Homo sapiens: one gene and its partner. Changing the gene in region 1 together with any one later gene gives a genetic interaction. Each region holds a gene or a part of one and is shown on either strand. Other genes may lie near its edges.

What was found. A genetic interaction does not mean that the proteins touch.
Region 2: changes in VPS72 (region 1) and SLC35A1 together harm fitness more than expected from each alone (negative genetic interaction), as found in Homo sapiens cells (one large-scale study listed by BioGRID).

What each region holds. Positions count from the first base shown.
Region 1 is NC_000001.11:151,183,698-151,187,197, forward strand, and holds part of VPS72 (vacuolar protein sorting-associated protein 72 homolog), read right to left. Parts: intron 2,254-3,500; coding exon 2,101-2,253; intron 1,924-2,100; coding exon 1,809-1,923; intron 797-1,808; coding exon 620-796; intron 1-619. UniProt on the Homo sapiens protein: Deposition-and-exchange histone chaperone specific for H2AZ1, specifically chaperones H2AZ1 and deposits it into nucleosomes.
Region 2 is NC_000006.12:87,475,974-87,479,473, reverse strand, and holds part of SLC35A1 (CMP-sialic acid transporter), read right to left. Parts: intron 2,113-3,500; coding exon 1,935-2,112; intron 1-1,934. UniProt on the Homo sapiens protein: Transports CMP-sialic acid from the cytosol into the Golgi apparatus, functioning as an antiporter that exchanges CMP-sialic acid for CMP. Binds both CMP-sialic acid and free CMP, but has higher affinity for free CMP.

The DNA of each region.
Region 1 (3,500 bases):
GTGATCCACCCACCTTGGCCTCCCAAAGTGCCGGGATTACAGGTATGAGCCACTGCGCTTGGCCCAAACTGAAGAGATTTTTAAAGCAATACCATAAAATGAAGAGATTTTTAAAGCAATTTATCTCATGAAGGACTAATCTGCTGACTTCACGTTCTCATGATTATCATTAAAGTCAACATTATCACCCCCTGCTTTTTTTTTTTTTAAGAGATGGGGTTTCACTATGTTGTCCAGGCTGGTTATGAACTCCTGGCCTCAAGTGATCCTCCTGCCTAAATTTCCTGAGTCATTAGGTATATACCCCATTTTATAAACAAGAAAAGCAAAATGTGAATAAGTAATTTACCTACAGACTTAAAGCAAATGAATAGCAGAACGAGGATTTGACCTCAGTTCTATACAACTCTTATTTTACACCAAAGTACCTTAGCTTGTTCTTCAGAGTGCTCATAACTGCCTAGACTCTTGCACCTAATTACCTACTCTCCGCCATTTCTTCCTTCTGATTCCATCATCCCAAATTTCCATCTCTCCAGTTCTTTGGTCCTCCAGGTCTCATGGTTTTTCTCATGCCCCTCAGCCCCTCTACTCACTTTTTCTGAAACCACAGACTTACCCAGTGACCGTAAATTAAGCTCTTCTGTGATCTTGGCCTCCCGGAGCAGTTCCTCCTGGGTTAGTGGCCGCTCACAGTGGGGCCCCTTTCGCCGTCTTGACTGGCCCTGCCTCTCCTGTACCCGAAGGAACGTTTGTCGTGTATGCTCAGCTGTAGACTGACGCATAGACTTCCGACCTGGAAGAGAGTGAGATAAGAAGAAATCTTTGAATTCATGTCCACATATTTTATTTATTTATTTTGAAATGTTGTACTTGGAAATAATTTTTTTTTCTTTTTTTTTTTTTGAGATGGAATCTCGCTCTGTCGCCCAGGCTGGAGTACAGTGGCACGATCTCGGCTCACTCCAACCTCTGCTTCCTGGGTTCAAACAATTCTCCTGCCTCAGACTCCCGAGTAGCTGGGAGTACAGGTGCATGCCACCACATCCAGCTAATTTTTTGTATTTTTAGTAGAGATGGGGTTTCATCATGTTAGCCAGGATGGTCTTGAACTACTGACCTCGTGATCTGCCTGCCTCGGCCTCCCAAAATGCTGGGATTACAGGCATGAGCAACCGTGCCTGGCCTGAAATAATTTCAAACCTACGAAGTTGCAAGAATAGTACAAGGAATACTCATGTATCTTTTACCCCATCACCTATTGGTAATATTTTGGCCCTTTTGCATTTTGTTATGTGTGGTTTTTTTCTGAATGATCTAAATTAGGTAACTAAAGTTGTACACATCATGGCCTTTATCCCTAAATATTTCAGTGTGTATTTCCTAAGAATGAGGATTTTCCTACCCATAGTAAGTTATCAACATCAGTAAATTTTTTCTTCTTTTTATTACTTTTTTCTGGTGACAGAGTTTTGCTCTTGTTGCCCAGGCTGGAGTGCAATGGTGTAACCTCCACCTCCCAGGTTCAAGCAATTCTCCTGCCTCAGCCTCCCAAGTAGCTGGGATTACAGGGGCCCACCACCACACCTGGTTAATTTTTGTATTTTTAGTAGAGACGGAATTTCACCATGTTGGCCAGGCTGGTATCGAACTCCTGACCTCAGGTGATCTACCCGCCTAGGCCTCCCAAAGTGCTGGGATTCTAGGAGTGAGCCACCGCACCCAGCAACATCAGTAAATTTAACACTGATATGATACTTTATTATTATATTCCAATTTTGCCAATTGACCCTAACATCCCTACTCACTGTCAGAGCCGTCATCTTGTAGTTCTAATGGCAGTAGTGCCTTCTCTTCTCGCGCCTTCTGAGAGCTACCAGCCGGGGTGTTGACCTTTCGAGGCCTTAAGCTCTTGAGAGGTTCCTGAGGACAGATTGGAATCAGATACTGGGGAACAGAAGAAGTCAGGAGAAATATGAGGATCTCAATGAGAGAAAACTAGCATTGCCAGAAATGGAAGTGGCATAGGGAGTACTGGGACCTGATGAAAGAGAGAATAGGAATTGAGGAAATCCAAGACAACTAGGACTCCCCCTGTACCTTATAGGCCTTGGTGACTACTCGGCGCTTCCTTCTTGGCTCTTCTGCTTCTCCATCACTGGATGGTTCATCCCCTTCATCAATGTCAAAGTCAGAGTCCACTTCGTCCTCTGTGTCTGACTGGTCCCCTTGATACTCATCATCTCCGGATTCCTAAGGACACAGGGAGATAAGGGTTGGCTGGCAATGGAAGCCTTAATGCCCCTTCAGGAGGAACAGAATCTCTCGACTTTCTTGATAAGGGCTGCCCTACTCTCCTTCCTAATCCAGCCCTTCATTTTCCTCAGGCAAGAAAACTTTCTAGCTAATGGCCTTTGGCTCCAGTACCACCTCCTTCCAACATTAATTGATAGCCCTTTACCTGCAACACACTGTTAAGTACTGGGGAACAAAAGGATATGGTTTGGTCTCTACCTTCAGGGGCTTACAGTAAAGGGGAGGACATAATCTTACTTTTTTTTTTTTGAGATGTGGATCTCGAACAGGCTTGGTGGCTCACGCCTGTAATCCCAGCACTTTGGGAGGCCGAGGTGGGCAGATCACTTGAGGCCAGGAGTTCGAGACCAGCCTGGCCAACATGGTGAAACTCTGTCTCTACTAAAAATACAAAAATTAGCTGGGCATGGTGACGCACACCTGTAGTCCCAGCTACTTGGGAGGTTGAGGCAGGAGAACTGCTTGAACCCAGGAGGCATAGGTTGCAGTGAGCTGAGATAGTGCCACTGCACTCCAGCCTGGGCGACAGGGCGAGACACAGTCTCAAAAAGAAAAAAAAAAAAAAGGATGAAGAGGACTTAAACTATGATTGAAAACACTGTTAGTATTTAGACAGCCAAGAGGGAGGAAGGAATCATGGGCAGATGAAATAGCAGAAACAAAGGCACAGAAATGGTAATGTGTATAGCATGTTTATGGAATAAGGATTTAGATCTAAGTAAAACTTTTCTCTGTCAAGAAACCTTGTTAGCCAACTGCATTTGGCTCCAGCACTGCCTCCTTCCAACACTGATTGCACTGTAGGACTGTATGATTTGAAAAGAAGGTTGCATTCCATTTATGGAGAAACTTAAATGTCACACTAATAAACACGCTTTTAACCTGCAGGCCAGTGATTCTCAATCCCCTCCATCTCCTTATTTTCCCTACCATTGATAATCATTGTTGAGGTAAACTAAAGTTACTGAGAGAAATATGTGTCATTCCTCAGGCGTGTTGGGACAGAAAAACAGCTGAGTACTGCTACTATGGATAATGGAGGGCCACTGAAGATTTAGGGGAGGGGTAATGGTATGTACAATGGGTATTTCAGAAAGCTCTGGGGGCAGTTAGATGGCCTGGAGTAGAGAACGTGAAGTACAGCCTAGACCTCAGGTGAACTGGTTAGGGCTAGAATGGCAGCC
Region 2 (3,500 bases), on another chromosome or scaffold:
TAGAAAAGTGGTTCGGTAAATGGAAAGGAATAACAGCCTCAATTCTTACTTCCCTCACAGCTGTAATGGGTGTACTTATTCTTGTCGGGTGCTGTGTCATACCATGCATCTGTGGGTTGGTGCAGAGTAAGTGCTCATAGAAATGGCACTTACTAAAACCTCCCTTAACTATCCTCCACCTTATCCAGAGAAGCTTCTTCTTTCGGAAAATTGAGCAGAACTAAGCCAAGGCATGTTAAAGAAGTTTGAAGAGAAAGAGGTGTAAGGAAAATGCAAGAGGAGGGGATTGTTAGATATGAGTTCTAAATTTCTCTTCGAAGAATCAGTATGTCAGTATGTTCAATTCTTTGCCTTCTACTTTTAAATTTAACTTCCTCGTAAAGCAACCTTTTCTGATTACCCTCTCCACCCTGACTCATTCCGATTTCCTGCTCTGCCATAACCATTTTTCCCGCCAAACCACTCATCCCATCACTCTCTTTAAATTAGCCAACTGGAATTAGTTTAGCCTGTGCAGTCTAACCCTAGCCAATAGGGGAACGACAGAGCCATAGAGGCCACGTGCATAAGGAATAAGTCCCCTTTTCCTCCCTTGTCCAGGTGTGCGCTCACCATTGCTCCATCTGTGAGGGCACACCCTTCTATAGAAGGAAAACTGCCTTGCTGAGAAGAAAAAAAGAAAATTTTGTATTCGAGTGCTGTTTTTTTGTGTGTGGCACTGAAACTTTATTTATAACACATATTTTTCATATTCGAACTACTTCAAGTGGATTAGTATAAGCCTTTTCAAGATCTAGAACCAATTTTCAACACTTTCACTCGGTATCTTTCCCAAAATGATAGCCATGCTTGCAGTTGCATTATCAACTGTCTCATCACACACTGCTGAAGCTGAAGCAATCACAATGTCGTGTAACATTTCAATATTTAAATGTAATGTCTGTTTCTACATAAAAGCCTACACACAACACTATTCCTCCCTGCTTCCCTTCACTCACCAACACACATCTTGAAACCTGTATGACTTCTTAACTGCCCCAATGACTCCTATAGGTCCCCATCTCATAAATCTTTCCCCTGGTAATTTACCTATTAGATTTTATTTAATTTTCAGCACCCCATATTATTTTCTCAAATTAAAAAAATGAACAAACTGAAGCTTAAAGAGGTTACAAGTGTGTATGCAGCCACAATCTCAGTCTAGGATTAAAATTAGGTCTATCTCCTCCAATGCCCCTAATTCTTAACCCTCTCTTATACCACATCCTTAGCTAAACAATTCTTGCATGATGTTTTTGATTCAAAGCCCGGTGCTGCCACATATTAACAGTGTAATCTTAAGGAACCTCAGATGCTGCGTCAATAAAACAGGGGTAAAGTACTTACCTTGAAAATGTGGAAGAAGTAAATGAGAAAACACAAAAAACACATAGCACAGTGCCTAGCACTTAACATAGGAAACACTCAAGAAATGTTATTATTATTATATTCATCCAAAACACAAGTCAATAATTGTTTTCTGTAAGGGCCAAACAGTAAATATTTTAGGCTTTGCAAGCCAGTCAGTCTCCATTACACCAAAACCAGGGAGCAAGCTGGATTTGGCCCATGAGACATAGTTTGCCAACTTCTATTCTACAGCAGCGTTCTTCAACCTCAGCAGTACTGACATTTGGGGCTGGATAAATCTTTGTTGTGAGGCTGTCATGGGGATTGCAGGATGTTTAGCAGCATCCTTGGTCTCCACCCACTAGATGCCAGTAGCATCTCTCAAGTTGTGACAACTAAAAAATCTTCTGGGGGGCAAAATCACCCCTAGTTGAGAAACACTGACCCAGAGCAATTAAACATATAAAGATGTAGCTTGAATTTTCTAACAAATACCCTCACCAGGTAGAAAAATAATTTAACACACTATAAGTATTTATACTCACTTAGCTAAAATTCCCACACTTAGCAATAACTTTATAACTTCTGTGATACACACGGCTGTGGTTGAAAAGTAGAGTTCTTTGTCTGATGTCCTTGTGTATCTTAAAGCTATGGTATAGACTGCAGCCATCAGGGTCATCACTGCCAAGCAGTATAACTTGAATAATAAAGTGACATTGTCTGGAAAATACGTGCAACAAAGACATTACTTAGTAGACAATATATGTATATATAAGTTAATAAACTAGTTATAGCCTAAAAATACTTTCCAATTCCAAGCACAAAATATTTTCTAAAACTCATGCTTAAAAATTTTTTTCAAAACAATGTTTGCCAATTACATGAGCGTGCACACACACACACACACACACACACCACAGCTGACTTTAAACATCAGCCAATTAGGCATAAGTTTTGTTCCTAGGGAGTGCCCCAATTGCAAGACTATGTAGCGTACTGATTCTAGTTCAGGATGTTATAAATTACATTATATATATATTGGTGGTGGTGGTGGGTTTTTTTGGAGACAAGGTCTCACTCTGTCCCCCAGGTTGGAATACAGTGGCGCGATCTCAGCTCACTGCAACCTCCACCTCCCAGGTTCAAGCGATTCTCGTGCCTCAGCCTCCCGGGACTACAGGCGTGCACTACCACAGCCAGCTAATTTTTTGCATTTTTAGTAGAGATGGGGTTTCCCCATGTTGGCCAGGCTGGTGTCTAACTCCTGACCTCAAGTGATCCGCCCACCTCCGCCTCCTGAAGTGCTGGAATTACAGGTGTGAGCCACCGTGCCAGACATATATTTTAGGACAGGGTCTCACTCTGTCACCCAGGCTGGAGTGCAGTGGCATGATCTTGACGTGATCTCGGCTCACTGCAAACTCCACCTCCCGGGTTCAAGCAATTCTCCTGCCTTAGCCTCCTGAGCAGCTGGGATTACAGGCACCCGCCACTACACCCAGCTAATTTTTGTATTTTTAGTAGGGAAGAGGTTTCACCATGTTGGCCAGGCTGGTCTCGAACTCCTGACCTCAGGTGATCCACCCACCTCGGCCTCCCAAACTGCTGGGATTACAGGCATTAGCCACCACGCCTGGCCCCAGCACATATTTTAAATATTTTTATGATTACAAACTTGTGGATGCAAAGCATGAAACCAACTGCAGCAATGTATATTCTAGATTTAAAGGCAGCAGAAAGAAAATAATAATTGAGAAATGAGTGGGGCTTAATATAAAACTTTTTCACAATAAGAACTTACAACTAGCCACTCATTTCATTGCATTATACAAAACAATAATTCATAACACAGGAAAAGAATATTAAGAACACACCTCTATAAAACTAGAAATGCAGGAAACATATAAACACTTAATTTAAGAATTGCCTGCAAGTATATCTGAGCAGCAGCCATCTCTCAGGCACCAGAGCCTGTCCAAGACCTTTGGTAAAACCATAAGCAGTGGGTACCAAGTCTCCCTCATACTTCCTTATTCCCAGACCTGCTCGGGTACTGCCATCACCCAAGGATCAAACTATTTCTACTTTCCTCACCCACCTCCCACCTA